Homo sapiens: one gene and its partner. The gene in region 2 interacts genetically with the main gene of each other region. Each region holds a gene or a part of one and is shown on either strand. Other genes may lie near its edges.

Region 1 (8,827 bases), on a different chromosome or scaffold from region 2:
TTTGAAATGTTTAACCATATCTCATTTAACCCAAGAAATTGCACTATCAGCTTTATGTTACAGAACAATAATCCTGGCAGCTGTATAGAGGATGATGGAAAAAGGATTAGTCACACAGCAATGTGCTGAAGTTGCCTCTTATTGGCTCTTGAGCACAGACTGTTACATTTTCAGGAATTCTGTGAGCCAGTTGACCTTTCACACAGATATCTTAAAATCTACGATGGTGAGAGTATTTACACCATGGTAATCAGCAAACACTACAAAAATCAGGGCTTTTTCTATTTTCCCACAAAGCCAATTAACCAATACACCCAAGAAATAGAACCACAGAGGCCAGTAAAGTACTATGTTAACAGCCTAAGACATAATGAAGGCCCGACTAAGACCTGAATAAGTGGCACTAAGAATGTCAAAGTGACAAATTTGACAAATATTCACACTGCACAGGATGTAGGACTTAGTGACAAGCTGAAAATGGGTGATTAGGTAGAACAAACAAGGATTCCCAAATTTCTGGATTAAGCAACTGATACAGGAAATTTAGTTTTACACTAACTTAGACCACTAGACACTGAATATACCAAGATGAACATAAACTTCTGCCTCCAAGGAATTCATAATTTACAAGGGGAACAAGCACACATTTACCTAACAACATAGTAAACACAGATAACAGAAACTACCAGAGGAAAAGATTAGGAGAGAAGAACAGAAAAAGTGAATTCATTTCATTTTTTCATATGTAAACCTTGTACTATTTGTTCATATGTAGGTTTTCATGTGTATTATAGAACTAGCACTGCTTGTTTACTATCAAAATAGAAATGTCCATACAGGTTATGGAATGGCATATCATAAAAAAATTAAGATAGAAATGTCCAGTAGGCAGTTAAAAATATAGTTTTATAATTCAGAAGACAGGTAAGGAGCATACTGAAACCACAGACAAGACCAGATGATTTAGGAAAAAAAAGTTTTAGAATGCACAAAAAGGCAGGAAAATGAGGAAGATAGGAAAGTGGGGGGTGGACAGAGAAAATGAAAGCAATCAAAGAGACTAAAGAGTGCTCAGGGAGAAAGAGAAACAAAAAAGAATGGCAAAAGCCAAAAGAAGGGATAAAGAAAGTAAGTATTAGTATTGTCATAGAGCTTACAAAGATCAAACACAACGGGATGTGGCATTTGAGGGCTGACAGCCTTTAAAGAGATGAATTATATAATGCTTCTCTTTTATAGTTTCCTCATTCCCATAGAGGGCATATCAGAAACACCTCACCAATTTTCATACTATGCATCTGTGCTCACCAAGCCTATCAATCCGATACTCTGTCATTGGCCAAATCCCCGATATAGTGAATCAAAGTTTCTGCTGGAAATGCTTAATTCCTCAGGAATGTTGGGGGTGGAGGGGCAACAGAGACCGCTTAATTCAGAACAAACTGAACTGACAAGTATCTACAGGAACCTGGAAAAGAGCACCTAGAGAATTAAGAATTTTTAAAAAGCACGGCACCCATAAACCGCATGAGGAAAGTATTTCAAGAAAGGAATCAAATGTTATTACAAGTTAAAGGACCAAAAAAGTGTCCATTTGTCGTATGTGCAAGAAAGTCATTGAAAACCTTGCAAAGTTACTTCAATGGCATAGATTGAGGGTGACTGAGTCCCCAGGAAACAGGAAGAAAAAATCCAGAGCAAAGTAGGAGGCACTATCCTTAGAACGGAGCAGAGACTCGGCCGGGCGTGGTGGCTCACGCCTGTAATCCCAGCACTCTGGGAGGCCAAGGCAGGCAGATCACGAGGTCAGGAGATCGAGACCATCCTGGCTAACACGGTGAAACCCCGTCTCTACTAAAAATACAAAAAATTAGCTAGGCATAGTGATGGGCGCTTGTAGTCCCAGCTTCTCAGGAGGCTGAGCCAGGAGAATGGCGTGAACCCCGGAGGCAGAGCTTGCAGTGAGCCGAGACTGCGCCACTGCACTCCAGCCTGGGCAACAGCGCGAGACTCCGTCTCAAAAAAAAAAAAGAAAGAAAGAAAGAAAGGAGCAGAGGCTCCACTTCCGTTGCAATTGAAAAGGCAAGGGAAAAAAGGTGCAACAGATGGTTATACGTTGAGGTTAAATTCATAGGTTTGATGGGCAAGAAATGGAGAAAGTTCACATCTGATGGATCCTCTTTTTCTCCCCAGGGAAGCTTAAAGTCATTTGTTGAGCTTGAAGCGAAAGGTTTGAAAAGGGTAAAGAAGATTTAAACAATCACTGTGGAGAATGGCAGAGAACCAAGGAGGAAAATACAGAAGGCAGAACTGAAGAGTATTTACCGTCCAAGAACTGATTACAATTCCTGAAATACATCCTACTGAAACATATATCCAATGTTCCACTGTTCACCTGGGGAAGTCCTGTCTACAGTTTAAAACGTCTCCACCTAGAAAGCCTTTTCTGACATTTCCTAACCAGTTTCCAACCCCCAGTTATCATTCTCCTCTGTATTAATGCTCTACTTTATATGCAATCCTACTGCTATCTTACATCACTATATTACAGCACCTACCTTTATAGTCTACAAGATTATTTCCTCTACTAGATGGTGAACTACTTGAGGGCAAAAATTGCACGTGTATCAGGAGCAACTGCAAATATATCAGGGTCTCTGCCTTGTATCTAAAGTTTAAATTCAGTTTAGCCAAGTTTTAGACAGAGACCCGGTCCTAGAGTTTCCAACATGAAATAGTTCAGAAAACATCATTGCTTTTGACAAAAGTACATAAATTATCATGAAAAGGCACGTAATTCAGGATGACAATAAAATATTTAACAGTCAGAGAAAATAAACAATAATTTGGAACTTTATTTCATTTATTACCCACTTCGGTCTTCAAATGTGTGCATGTGCTTCTAACTGCGATGATGAATTTAAAAAACATTCTGCACCTACTGTATGCAAGATACTGCTATTCACACTGTGGGATATTAAAAAAAGTTTGCAATACAGAAGAGATTAAAACAAGTATACAAATGATTTTAGTACAAGGTAGAATGCGATGGCCACTAGAGAAAAAATTAAGAACAGGTGAGAAGGGCTTTATTTTTATGCTTATAAATGTGAACTTTATTCTGAAGGATAAGAGATTCGGGACATGGTAACTGGATTGACACAACTGAATATGCTTTTCAAGTATATTATATCTAACTTTTCTTATTTTGGGCAACTTCTCTCCAAACTGACTAGCAATAAAATCTGACTGCTAGATTCTGTACAAATGGTTAATCCCAACCTGAACAAATGTCTCAAACCCTCCCCCACGTGTCACTGTAGATAACTGCCTCATAAAGGAGGAAAAAAAAAACCAGCCTGTAAGAGGGGTCACCTGTACAGTCCATTTGTTAAAGGAGTAAGCGTTTCCAGCTCTACTTTAAAACAAGGCCCTATTTCATTATGCGTCTGCCGTCTGTTCTAGAGCTTACACTTTTGAAGAGCTCGAACGCTACACCCCTTCGTCAAGAACTGCGGCAGCAGCCGGTGGCTGCCAACGCGGTCCACAGGGTTTGGGCTCCCGAAACTTCAGGGAAGCTGGAGGCATGGGGGGGGGGGGGGTCGAGTTGAAATGAGGAACACACAGAAACCAAGTGTCCCCAAGACTCCAGAAAAGAGGGAGCCAGTCCCAGAGTAAATAGGTTGGCTAGAACAGTACCCAAGCCAGGGGGCCGGGCGGAGGGGAGTGGTCACGTCCAGACTGGAAAACTTTCTGCAAAGCAACGGGTTGGGTCCACCTCGCTGTCCAGGTGCGGAGCAGCGCAGACCCCCAACCCCACGACCTGGTCAGACCCCGTCTCCTTACCGTCCTGCAGAAGTTCCCGGACTGTAGCTGCAGCCGCTCCAGAGCCTCGAGCTCCGAGGCCAGCTACAGCGACGCTGCCGCCGCCACCTTCCATGTTGGCAGGTGCCGGGTTGATGTCGTCAGCAGCAGAACGGCTCCGCCCAGGTGGTGACGCAGAATCCCGGCGCCGCCCGCCCACCCAGCCCATGGCTCCAGGCCCACCTGGCGAACTGACTCTCAGCCCGCGCCTGGGCTAAGCCTGGCTAGGAGCCGCGCAGGTACTCGAGCAGTGGGCGCCCAGGGTCCGAGTGCTCTGCGCCCAGCGCACCGAGGGAGCCAAGGCCGTCGGGCCGGCGCTTTCAGCTGTCTCTCGCAGCAGCTCAGGGCCGCGCCCCCTGGGCTGGCGTCGTGCCCTAGCCAAGGAGAAGGTGGGCACCGGAACGTGGCCGCAGCGCTTATCTGTGAAGCAAGTATTAAACCTCAGAACAGGGGCCGCGCGGCGTAAGGCAGGAGAGCAGAGCGGAGGTTTCAGGGAGCTTCGTTTGCCCTCCACACTCACAAGAGTCACGCGTTAGTTGCTACACAGCTTTATCTGTTCCACGCCTTGATTGGCACTCCTGGGGTAATAAAAGCCCGCAGGAAATGCTTGGGAAGAAAAGTTGCTGGGGATGAACAGTGAAGAGAATTAGGGAGAGTCGATGAAGAAGGAAGTCTGAACCATAAAAGGACCAATAAAACTCACTGTCTCTACCCTCCTTCCTTCCCATGAGACCTTTGACCTTTTGCCTTTTCTACTTCTTCCTCAGTTTCAGTCACGTGCCAGACTTTTTCTTAATTACAAACTGATAGATGGTCCACATCTCAACTAACAGTATTGACGCTGTAAGAGCATCAGGTTGGTTCCCATTGTATCTTCTTTACTAATACGTTCGCGTTTTTGACCTAGATTTCTTTCTTCTAAGATAAATACTGATAAATTAACAGGGTCAGGCAACCACAAGTATGCAAGACAGTCTTAAGCTTCTTCGCAAAAAGAAGCTGGAAGATGACTTTTTCATTTTGTACAGTAGGTATGTATCCAGGAAACCAATTTTATCCAGTTCCAGAGCTACGTGGTTTTCTACATTCTGTTTCAAAAAGGTGCTATTACTTATCCTGTGCTTATCGCTGTTCTAAGTATTTTATAACTCAATGCATTTCATACTCATAACACCTCAGGTAAGCAAGTCTTATGCTACACTGCATTATGCTCTCTTTGTCTCAGAGGATTTTCCCTAGTATGTAAGATCTTAGTCATGATGGGAATAGGGGTGATTCATTCATTACTTGTGAATTAGGAATTGTTTTTCCTTCCTTGGCTTTATTCCCCCCAGTGGAAGATTTTAGAAGAGTGAGTAATATTCATTCATACAGCGAAAGTTTTGACCCCTCTACTCTGCATGCTCTCATGAGTTTACAAACATAAGACTCAATCCATATTCTAAAAGGAGTTAATAGGTAAGGTAGGAACCCATTTAAACAAACAATTGTACCAGGTGCTTTGGAATCTTTGGATTTACTTATTCCAGTAATTCCAAGCTTAGCTGCACATTGAAATCACCTGAAGAGCTTTAATAAAAACACTGATGCCTGCATCCTGAGCCCAGACGTTTGGATTTAATTGGTCTAGGGTATGGCTTGGGCATGCTAATTCTTAAAAGCTCCTCGGGTCATTGTAGTGTACAACTAAGGTAGAAAGCTACTGATTGTTTTGTTTTGTTGAGTTGGGGTCTAGCTCTGTTACCCAGGCTGGAGTGCAGTGGCAGGATCGTGGCTCACTGCAGCCTCAACCTCCTGGGCTCAAGGGATCCTCCTGCCCAAGCTTCTGGAGTAGTTGGGATCACAGTCGCTTGCTACCACGCCCAGCTGATTTTTATAATTTTTTTAGAGATGGGGGTCTCACTATATTGCCCAAGCTGGTCTCAAACTCCTGGCCTTAAGCAAGCCTCCCACCTTGGCCTCCCAAAATGCTGAGTTTACAGGTGTGAGCCCAGTCCCCTGAAACCTACTGATTTATTCTTTCAGCAAATAAATATTGAGGCCTTCTGTATGCCATTTACTATGACTGCAGGAGTGGATAAAAATGAAGTAATTCTTGCTAAAATCACTAATGACCTTGTTGCCATTGCGCTTTATTTTTGCCTTACTTTGATGTTTAAGATACCTATCCCCTCCTTCCTTCATAATGGTCTCTCTCGTTTTCTGAGTATCACTCTTTAGGTTTATTCCTCCCAGCTCCAAAGTTCATCTTCAGTCTCTTTTGCTCTCCCCTTTTCCTCTGTTACTTAAATATTGGTGCTTCCAGCGGTTTCTTGCAAGATCCTGACATCCTTAAGTACCTTGGCTATTTTTAATTTCAACTCCTTGCCTAAAGGTTAAAGACTCTAAAGTTTGAGCAATTAGACCATTCTAAAGTTGGCCCATATCTGATTCTTTTTTTTGTTGTTGTTATTTTCTGCTTCATTTTTCCTTCATACATACCTGTTTCTAAGTTACTGAGGCCAAGGACTGGAATATGAAAAGTAGCCAACACTGTGAAATAGTAGGATTTTAAGTATAGCAAATGTAAAACATTTACAAACTCCATAATTTCATCACTCGTACCTGTACCTCTTGGGGTATAAAAGTGATTTACAATGCAATTGTAGAATTATAATTGAAATTTTCACTAGATAATATCACATTAAAATTTTTAAAAATAATTAACGTTTGTTTATCTTCTGATTCACAGACAGAACAGGATTCAAGAATTACAATAAAAGCACCAGCATATCTTTTGAAACACTGACTACTTAAGAGTTGCTCTATTAATGCCATTTAACTTTCCTGAATAAAACAAGATATTTCCAAATGCCAGTCGAGTATCATATATAAAATAATTCAAACCAAATTTCTTGGCTTACCAATCCCAACAAAGTAACATGTAAAAAATTTTTAAATAACATGAAAACTTACAACATGGTAAACTAGGGAAAAAAAAAAAATCTCGTTTTCTGCATCTTGTGTTTCCACAACTATCTTGGGTAGTTTTCCACATCTATTTATCTTACAAATAGAGGCAGCATTCTATAGTATCATATTGGATACTGTGAAAATAAGCTATTAATAAAAAAATTTCTGAGCCCACAAGCCTGATAAAAAATATATGTTGTTGGCAGTTGAAATTGTTAGAATGGAATTAATATAGTGAAAACATATTTTCTCTATACAAGCTTATTGTCTTTTTCAGATTTGAAACATATCTGTATTAATGAAGAGTGACTGCATGCAAACGACAATATGTCAGGAAAGAAAAAAAGATCCCATAGAAATGTTTCATTCTGGACAGCTGGTAAAAGTCTGTGCCCCAATGGTTCGATATTCAAAGTAAGTGTTGCAAAATGATTAATGAACTAAGATGAAATTTCCCTTTTATGCTCTGACTTTTTAAAAGTACTGTAAGACCACCCACCATATGGGAACTTCAAACTCTTAGCTTTGGAATCATGACTTAGAATTGAGTCATGATGCTACTACTTGCCTAGTATATATGTGATCCTGAGTAAACAATTAACTTCTCTGAGCTGCACTTTTTATATCTATAAAAATGGTGGTGGTTGTAACTCCTACCTATAAGTATATAATGGATATTAAATAGATATAAGTATTGATGTATAGATTTTTATGTGAACTTAAGTCTTGGGACAAATAGGAGTGCAATTATGGGTCCTAAGGTAGTTGTGTGTTCAGTTTTCGAAGAAATATTTCTTCGTATCTTTTGCTCATCTTCTAATTGGATTGTTTGCTCTTTTACTATTGAGTTTTTTTAGAAGTTTGTTATAAAATATACGTAACATAAAATTTACCTCTCGATCATTTTTAAGTATACAGTTCAGCAGTGTTAATTACATTCACATTGTTGTGCATCTGATCTCTAAAACTCTTTTCATCTTAGAAGATGGAAATTCTATCACATTAAACTGTGACTCCCCATTCCACTGTTCCTCACAGCAGCCCCTGGCAACCATTATTCTACTTTCTCCCTCTATGAACTTCACTACTCTAGGTACCTCATATAAGTCTTATACGTATTTGTTCAGAACTGGATTTATTTTGCTAATATTTTATGCAGCATAACATCCTCAAGGTTCATTCATGTTGTAGCATATATCAGACTTGTTCCTTTTTAAGGCTGAATAATATTCCATTTTATGTATATTTTGTTCATTCATCTGTTGATATCCATTCATATATTGATAGAACACAAGATAACTTCCACCTTTTGGCTACTGCAAATAATACTGTCATGAACTATGGGTGTACAAATACCCATATACAAATACCCATGGTTCGTAACAGGTCTCTGAGACCCTGCTTTCAATTCTTTTTGACTATGTACCCAGATGTAGAATTGCTGGATCATATGGTGATTCTATGTTTAATTTTTTGAGCAACTACTGTACTGCTTTCCATAGCAGCTGCACCATGTTACCTTACCACCAGCAGTGAACAAGAGTTTTAATTTCTCCACATCCTCATCAACACTTGTTATGTTCTGGGAGTTTTTATTTTATTATTATAATCATCCTAATGGGTGTGAAGTGGTATCTCATTGCAGTTTTAATTTGCATTTCCCTAATGATTAATGATGCTGAACATCTTTTTGTGTGTTTATTGGCCATTTGTATGTTGTCTTTGTAGAAGTATCTATTCAAGTGCTTTTGTCCATTTGTTTGTTTTCTTGTTTTCTATTATACTCTAGATATATATTCTGCTTTGTCAGATGTGTGATTTGCACGTATTTTCTCCCTGTATATGGCTTGTCTTTCATGCTCCTAACAGGATCTTTTGCAGAACAAAAGTTTCATTTTAATGAAGTCTAACATCAATTTTTCCTTTTGTAAATTGTGCTTTCGATGTCAAGTATAAGAAACCTTTATGTAGCTCCAGATCCTGAATATTTTCTCCTAAGTTTTTTTCCCTA
Region 2 (8,582 bases):
TTCTTTACATACATCATATAGAAAAATATTTTATATTTTCAATGATTATGAATAATTTTTCTAATCACTAATCAGCAAAACTCTTGCGACCCACCCACCCAATTTATTCACCACAAAACAACAATTTCACTCCGCTTTTTCTTAGAAGTCAATCTTGCTTCCTAATTATGATTTTTTTTTTTAGATATAATGCACATAACATAAAAGTCACCCTTTTGAAGTGGACAATTCAGTGGTCCTTATACATTCACAAGGTTGCAAACTACAACCACGAATTCCAGGACATTTTCTTCACTCCAGAAAGAACCCGTCTTCACTCCCTGGCAACCACTAATCTACTTTCTCTTTAGATTTGCCAATTTTGGACATTTCGTATAAATGGAATCATAAAATATGTGGCCCTCTGTGTCTGTCTTCCTTCATTTAGCAGAATGTTTTCAAGGTTCATCCATGTTGTACCATGTAACAGTACTTCTTTTTTTTTTTTTTTTTGAGGCAGGATGTTGCTCTGTTGCCCATGCTGGAGTGCAGTGTCATGATCTCAGCTCACTGCAACCTCTGTCTCCCGGGGTCCAAGCAATCCTCATGACTCAGCCACCTGAGTAGTAGGGACTACAGGCGTGCATCACCACGCCTGCCTAATTTTTGTACGTTTAGTAGAGACAGGGTTTCGTGATGATGGTCAGGCTGGTCTCAAACTCCTGACCTCTAGTGATCCCCCTGCCTGAGCCTCTCAAAGTGCTGGGATTACAGGTGTGAGCCACCATGCCTGGCCCATTTTATTGGCTGAATAATATTACATGTACTACAAATATACAACATTTTATCCATTCATAAATTGATTTGGGTTGTTTCCACTTCTTGGCTATTATGAATAATGCTGCCATGAACATTTGTGTACAAGTTTTCCTGTGAATATATGTTTCCTGTCAATTTTTTAACCTAATGTTAAACTTTTAAAATTATAACTGCTTCTTGCAAGTACCTGCCATGAAATTTTATTCAGAATGGAATAAAAATATTTCTCGTGAAAAGATATATGAATGAACAGACCAGGCTATCATCATATGAACCACAAAGCACCACCTAAGAAGTACTCTGTCAACAAAGATGGACCTTAATCGAATCAGGTCTAATGAGAACGGCACTGCCAAACAGAACTTCCTGTGACAATGGAAAGGTTCTATAAGCTGTGCTAGCCAATATGGTAGCCATTAGCCCTATGCAGCTTGTGAAACAAGAAACTAAGTTTTTGATTTTTTCAATTATTTTTCCCCCTTAAAGGGACAGGGTCTTGATGTCTCCCAGGCTAGAGTACAATCGTAGCTTACTGAAGCCTTGAACTCCTGCACTCAAGCAATCCTCCCACCTTGGCCTCCCAAAGTGCTGGGATTACAGGTGTGAGCCACCAAACTTTTTCAATTTTAATTAATTTAAATTTAAATAGCTACATAGAGCTAGTAGCTACTCTAAGGATAGTGCAGTTCTAGGTCTTCTAATTACAGAAAGAGGGACAAACAAATAAGCATAAGGACATCACAAGGAAGCAAAATGACAAATCTAGAATATTGGACAATCTACAGGACAAGTGCTTCAGTTTCTGCAAAAAGTCAATGACATAAAAAATATATAAATAAAAAAGATAAGGTATAAAACTCTAGATTAAAAGACTAAGCAAGAAAACAACCAAATGGAAACTGTATTTTGCAGGTTGATAATGGCAATGTCATTTTATAAGAAAATGTTTTTAGAAATATGGGCCGGGCATGATGGCTCACACCTGTAATACCAGCACTTTGGGAGGCCAAGGTGAGTGGATCACAAGGTCAGGAGTTTGAGATCAGCCTGGCCAAGATGGTGAAACCTCATCTCTATTAAAAATACAAAAAATTAGCTGGACGTGGTGGCGGGCGCCTGTAATCCCAGCTACCCGGGAGGCTGAGGAAGGAGAATCACTTGAACCCGGGAGGTGAAGGTTGCAGTGAGCCGAGACTGTGCCACTGCACTCCAGCCCAGGCGACAAGGCATGTCTCTGTCTCAAAAAAAAAAAAAAAAAAAAAAAGTTATGTTGTAATTGAGTGCCTAATAAGTATCAGGTACTATAGAAGTATATAGAGGCCAGGCGCAGTGGCTCACATATGTAATCCCAGCACTTTGGGAGGCCAAGGTGGGAGGCTCACTTTAGATCAGGAGTTCAAGACCAGCCTGGCCAACATGGTGAAACCCTGTCTCTACTAAAAATACAAAAAATTAGTGGGTGTGATGGCACACGCCTGTAAACCTAGCTAGTCAGGAGACCAAGATGGAGAATCGCTTGAACCCATGAGGTGGAGGCTGCAGTGAGCCGAGATTGCACGACTGCACTCCAGCCTGGGCGACAGAGCGAGACTCCATCTCAAACCAAAAAAAAAAAAAAAAAAATGCAGAGAACAAAATGAATGCAATAAATATTCATGTAGCACATCTATCCCCCAGGTACTTGGATAGAAATACTGAATTCTTGGCCGGGTACAGTGGCTCACGCCTGTAATCCCAGCACTTTGGGGAGCAGAGGTGCACATATCACTTGAGCTCAGGAGTTGGAGACCAGCCTGACCAACATGGTGAAACCCCATCTCTACTAAAAATACAAAAATTAGCCAGGCACAGTAGTACACGCCTGTAATACCAGCTACTCGGGAGGCTGAGGCATGAGAATCACTTGAACCCGGGAGGTGGGAGTTATAGTGAGCTGAGATCATGCCACTGTACTCCAGCCTGGATGACAGAGCTAGACTCCATCTCAAAAAAAAAAAGAAAAAGAAAGAAATGCTGAATTCTTGTAAATCTCTAAATGACCTTTACTCCCATGCCTGAGCCGTTACTATTCGTCTGCCCAAAAGCCTCAGTTATCTCTCTCTGCATAACCCTACTTACTCCCCAGCCCCAAGGTCATGTGGCATTTATTCATCCTTCAGTTTTGAGCTCAGGCAATACTGAGTGTCCAAACAATTTCTTCAACTCCTCAGCCAATAGATTCTTCCCTCTGTGCCCCCAGAGCTTATTGCACATTTCTTTATTATAGTCCTCACGATTGTCTCTATTAATATTTTGAGGGTATGGGGATCAGCATTTTAAAAATAGTTTCCAGGTATTATTGGAAAACCTTTGACTTCAAGCAATGGACATCCCAGAGAGGGTTTTCCTTGAGGCACAAACGCCTGAGGCTACAGCTAGATTCTTCCCACCTACCGAGAGTTGCTTAAGAATTATGCTTAATTTTAATATTTGCCAATTTAATAAAAATTAAATGACACCTAAGTTTAACTTAAAGGCCTTTAATTACAAATAAAGTTGAGCCTTTTTTTTTTTCCATATTTATTGGCAATTTGTATTACTTCCTTTTTTTTTTTTTTTTTTTTTTTTGAGATGGAGTTTCGCTCTTGTTGCCCAGGCTGGAGTGCAATGGTGCGATCTCGACTCACCACAACCTCCGCCTCCTGGGTTCAAGCAATTCTCCTGCCTCAGCCTCCCAAGTAGCTGGGATTACAGGCATGCGCCACCACATCCGGCTAATTTTGTATTTTTAGTAGAGACAGGGTTTCTCCATGTTGGTCAGGCTGGTCTCGAACTCCTGACCTCAGATGATCCGCCAGCCTCAGCCTCTAAATGCTGGGATTACAGGCGTGACCCACCACACCCAGCCAGCAATTTGTATTACTTCTTTTTTCAACTGACTGCTCATGTATTTGCCACTATTTCCATTAGGAGAAATATTCTTTTCTTGTTGATGTGCAAATGTGCTTTATATGTTGAGAATACCAATCCTCATATATATATATTTGCTATTGCCATTAGTTTTCTAACATTTTTGTGCCTGTGATAAATTAATTTTAATAGTCAAATTTAGCAGTGATTTCTTGCTTTTTTCTTATTTTAAAAAATACCTTCACAAACCAAGATTAAAGAGCCACCTATGTTTTATTCTAGTACTCATGGTTTTATTTTTAACTGTTATATAAAAAGAATTATACATTATTTAATATTTTTTAAATAACCTTCATTAATATCGGCACTCATCAGAAAAGTCATATGTATTTAGGATACTGTCAAGTGGTAAACTCTAAGTTTTTTCAAATTCTAATTTTCCATGATAAACTTAAATTTTATTTCAGCCAACAAATGCTTGCAGCTACTTCCCTTGAAATGACTATCACAGTTCATCTGAGAAAATCTGTCAAATAGCCAATTCTGTTCTAATCTGTCTGTTAGCTGTTCTTTCAAGTTAAAAAAAAAAAAAAAAATGTCCAGGTGCAGTAGTTCACGCCTGTAATCCCAGCACTTTGGGAGGCTGAGACAAGCGGATCACGAAGTCAGGAGTTCGAGACCAGCCTGGCCAACATGGTGAAACCCCATCTCTACTAAAAATACAAAAACTAGCTGGGCTTGGTGGCAGGTGCCTATAATCCCAGCTACTTGGGAGGCTACGGCAGAAGAATTGCTTGAACCCGAGAAGCGGAGGTTGCAGTGAGCCGAGATTGTGCCACTGCACTCCAGCCTGGGCAACAAAGCAATATTCCATCTCAAAAAAAAAAAAAGAAATGGTGTTCCACAGAAAAAAATAAAGCAGTTAGCTCAGCTTACAACTCAAAAAACTACAAATGCTTTTCTTTTCTCCAAAATAACCAACACACTAGCCAGTATGCAGTAAAAAGTGCTTTCTCCAGCACTTTGGGAGGCTGAGGCACATGCATCGCTTGAGCTCAGAAGTTTGAGAGCAGCCTGTGCAACACAGTGAGACCTTGTCACTACAAAAAAATACAAAAATCAGCCAGGCATGATGGCGCATCCACTTGGGAGGTCCCAGCCACTTGGGAGGCTGAAGTGGGAGAACAGCTTGAGCCTGGGAGCCAGACGCCACTGCACTCTAGCCTTGGCAACACAGCCAGAATCTGTCTCAAAAAAAAAAAAAAACATTGTTTTATGTGAACTTCCCATTTCTTCACAAATATTTTTAAAGGAATACTCATGGATCAACATTTTTCAAAAATTAATCATTTTAACTGTTTTGTCAAGGACAATCTTCAATAAAAATGGCACGGCTTGTTTTTGTTCCTGTGAGGGCACAGAGGTAAAGAATGCCATCACCATGAGTACAATTTGGAGCTTAGCGCTGCCTTGATGTGTACCAAGCCAGCAGCAATTTTACCCACATGCTTTTGTACCAGAGCCAATGTCATCACTGAAAAACGCAAACATCTTTTATATTAGTATTATTACCAAGTAAATATTTCCTTACAAATACTAACATCTTAGTATTATTAGGATATTTTGACCTCATGGGCTACCTGAGAGGGTCTTGGTAACCCCCAGGAGTCTTTGGTCCATGCTCTGAGAAACAATGATCTCTAGAAGGGAAACATGCTAATTTGTTTTTTTATTTTTTTTCTTTTTTTTTTGAGACAGTCTTGCTCTGTTGCCAGGCTGGAGTGCAGTGGCACCATCTCAGCTCACTGCAACCTCCGCCTCCTGGGTTCAAGCGATTCTCCTGCCTCAGCCTCCCGAGTAGCTGGGACTACAGGCGTGTGGCACCACACCCAGCTAATTTTTTGTATTTTTAGTAGAGACGGGGTTTCACCGTGTTAGCCAGGATGGTCTCGATCTCTTGACCTTGTGATCCGCCCGTCTCGGCCTCCCAAAGTGCTGGGATTACAGGCGTGAGCCACCGCACCTGGCCAGGAAACATGCTAAATTTAAAGGTAGTTGATAAAGACTATGAAGGACACTGTGGATTCTGTTAAGTCAAAAGTCCTTTATCTGTCAGCTTCAGCATTTAGAACTATGCCATTGGCCAACGAAGTTTGTCCAAGACCCTACTTTTTCTTTTATTAACTTTTTTTTTCAGAGACAGAGTCATGCTATGTTGTCCAGGTTGGTCTCAAAACTCCTAGACTCAAGTGATCCTTCCACCCTCAGCACCCTGAGTAGCTGAGACTGCAGGCATGATCCACTGCGTCACCTGGCTCTGCTTTTTCTTCTTATTCTACTAAAGTTTAATTTAAAGATTTATTTTCATCAAGTCGCTTTCAACACAGGCCACCAACTACCCCTTTAACTTGCTGCCTATATTGGAACTGCTGTTTGACTCTGACCAAAAGTATTAGACATTCTGACTTTATAACCATACTTCACTGAATTTCTTTTAAGAGCAACAATATTTTTCTATTTAACAGTCCAAGATACCACTGGGGATGTATATTTGGAGTCTTTAAATATATAAATTCTGGAAGAATTAACTTATTCTGAATAAAACTGTTTAATTTTATCTACCTAGAAAACATACATAGCATTAATTGTACCATTAATTGTAAAGACATTTCAATTTCAACTTACTGCAAACCTAAGAAGAAGGCAAGACTTTCCAACCCCTGAGTCGCCAATCAGAAGTAACTTGAATAAATAATCACTGCAAAAAGAAAAAGAAAATGATGTTAATAAAAAGCACACTGCATTGCTATAAGCTATACAAAAACAAAAACACAGCTACAAATAACAACTCACTGTGAAGACTACATCTCCTATAAAGCCCATGCATGGCTTAAGCCAAAACTGCAAACAGCCACAGCCCTTCTGACAGATCACTAAACATGATAAAATTATGTAAAAAGTAGGCAATGCCACCTATGATCTCTAACATCAGTGAACTTCCACTTAAAAAGAAAGAAGGAAAAGAAAAATAAGTGATACGCACTCTTGGACTGCCCAAGATACTTAAAACATTCTAAATAAATCCCACTCCTCTATAGTATTAGAATACAGAAAGGTAACTTTTCATTGTTTTTGCCCATGAAATATTAGTCTCTCCTTCAAATTCTAAGATCAGGCCAGGCGCAGTGGCTCACACCTGTAATCCCAACACTTTGGGAGGCTGAGGCAGGCAGTTCACTTGAGGTCAGGAGTTCAAGACCAGCCTGACCAACATGGTGAAACCCCGTCTCCATTAAAAATACAAAAATTAGCTGGGCATGGTTGCGCATGCCTGTAATCCCAGCTACCTGGTAGGCTGAGGCAGAAGAATTGCTTGAACCCAGGAGGCAGAGGTTGCAGTGAGCCGAGATCGTGCCACTGCATTCCAGCTCCAGCCTGGGCAATAAGAACGAAACTCTGTCTCAAAAAAAAAAAAAAAAAAAAAAAAAAAAATTCCAAGATCAAATAATTTCATAGCACTCCTCCAATGAAGGGGTTCTCACGATCCTTCTCTAGCATCCAGCTTGAATTCTCCCGTCAAAACAATGTTCATATAACTTCTGAAAGCCCATATTATAAACTAGAAATGTGATAAATTCACAGGCTGTTTATCCAAGTGCAAAACTTGACTAACACTCTACACTTGTATTAAAGCATTTTTCAGAACCATTGAAAACCAAGCTTTTTTTTTTTGAGACGGAGTCTTGCTCTGTCACCCAGGCTGGAGTGCAGTGGCGCGATCTCGGCTCACTGCAACCTCCAACTCCCTGGTTCAAGTGATTCTCCTGCCTCAGCCTCCCGAGTAGCTGGGATTATAGGCATGCGCCACCACGCCCAGCTAATTTTTGTATTTTTAGTAGACACGGGTTTCACCGTGTTGGCCAGGATGGTCTCGATCTCCTGACCTCATGATCTGCCCGCCTCAGCCTCCCAAAGTGCTGGAATTACAGGTGTGAGCCACCGCACCCAGTGATAAAACAAGGCTCTCTTTATGTATCTCTAACATTGCCAGGCCTAACTCAAAAACTATCCCCAGAGATTCCTTCATGGAACTAAGACAACATTATTATTCACCCACAGTCTCCAAGGAAATCCCTCATAGATCCTTCCCAACTCAGACACCAGTTCTATGCATTCTTTTAAGCAATTTCAAAAGGACAAAAACCTTAGAATTTATATATCGTTTTTGTAGAAGATATACATGATTTTGTATTTTGTCCTTTTTGATTTACTTTCAAAAATATGCTAAAGTGAAAACCACGTCACAATTTAGATTAAAATTATTTACATGTAAACAAGACATAAAACTTATTTTTTTTGTTTTAATTGCACTGCCAAAGAAGAGAGGATATAAAACTTCTATAAGCGATTATCTTTGTGAATATTCAACTATTACGTAGGTTTACATAATGATATGCATTACTTAAAACATTGTTTGGGTTTTAGCAAATTACCATATTATACTTATTGTTATACTTATTGTCTTTAATTATATATGAGGAAAATAATTTTTTAAAAATCCCAAGTGCCAGTCAGCAGCAAAATAGAAGTCAGAGAAGGAAACAAAAATCTTCTAAACAAGTAAATCAGAAGAGGGGACTGAAGCATAGAATGAACTAGACATCCTTTCCAGTTTGAGATTTTAAAATTTTTAAAAAGATCGCTATTGTAGAATATTATCCTTAATAAATGATTGATACCTAATACCAACAATTTGTACTTGGCAGTTCAGCTGGCTGACTTTACTACTATTGATAAGGTTCCTTCTTAATTAAACCAAATATTCTTCTTTCTTTTTTTGAGACAGAGTCTTGCTCTGTTGCTCAAGCTAATTTTTGTACTTTTAGTAGAGACGG

The links.
Region 1: changes in RAB1A (region 2) and COG5 are lethal when combined (synthetic lethality), as found in Homo sapiens cells (one study listed by BioGRID).

What each region holds. Positions count from the first base shown.
Region 1 is NC_000007.14:107,559,957-107,568,783, forward strand, and holds the start of COG5 (conserved oligomeric Golgi complex subunit 5), read right to left. Parts: upstream 3,965-8,827; 5' UTR 3,941-3,964; coding exon 3,847-3,940; intron 1-3,846. Other genes in the region: DUS4L-BCAP29 protein, read left to right, coding at 7,115-7,230; DUS4L (tRNA-dihydrouridine(20a/20b) synthase [NAD(P)+]-like), read left to right, coding at 7,115-7,230.
Region 2 is NC_000002.12:65,098,362-65,106,943, forward strand, and holds part of RAB1A (ras-related protein Rab-1A), read right to left. Parts: intron 6,446-8,582; coding exon 6,373-6,445; intron 1-6,372. UniProt on the Homo sapiens protein: The small GTPases Rab are key regulators of intracellular membrane trafficking, from the formation of transport vesicles to their fusion with membranes.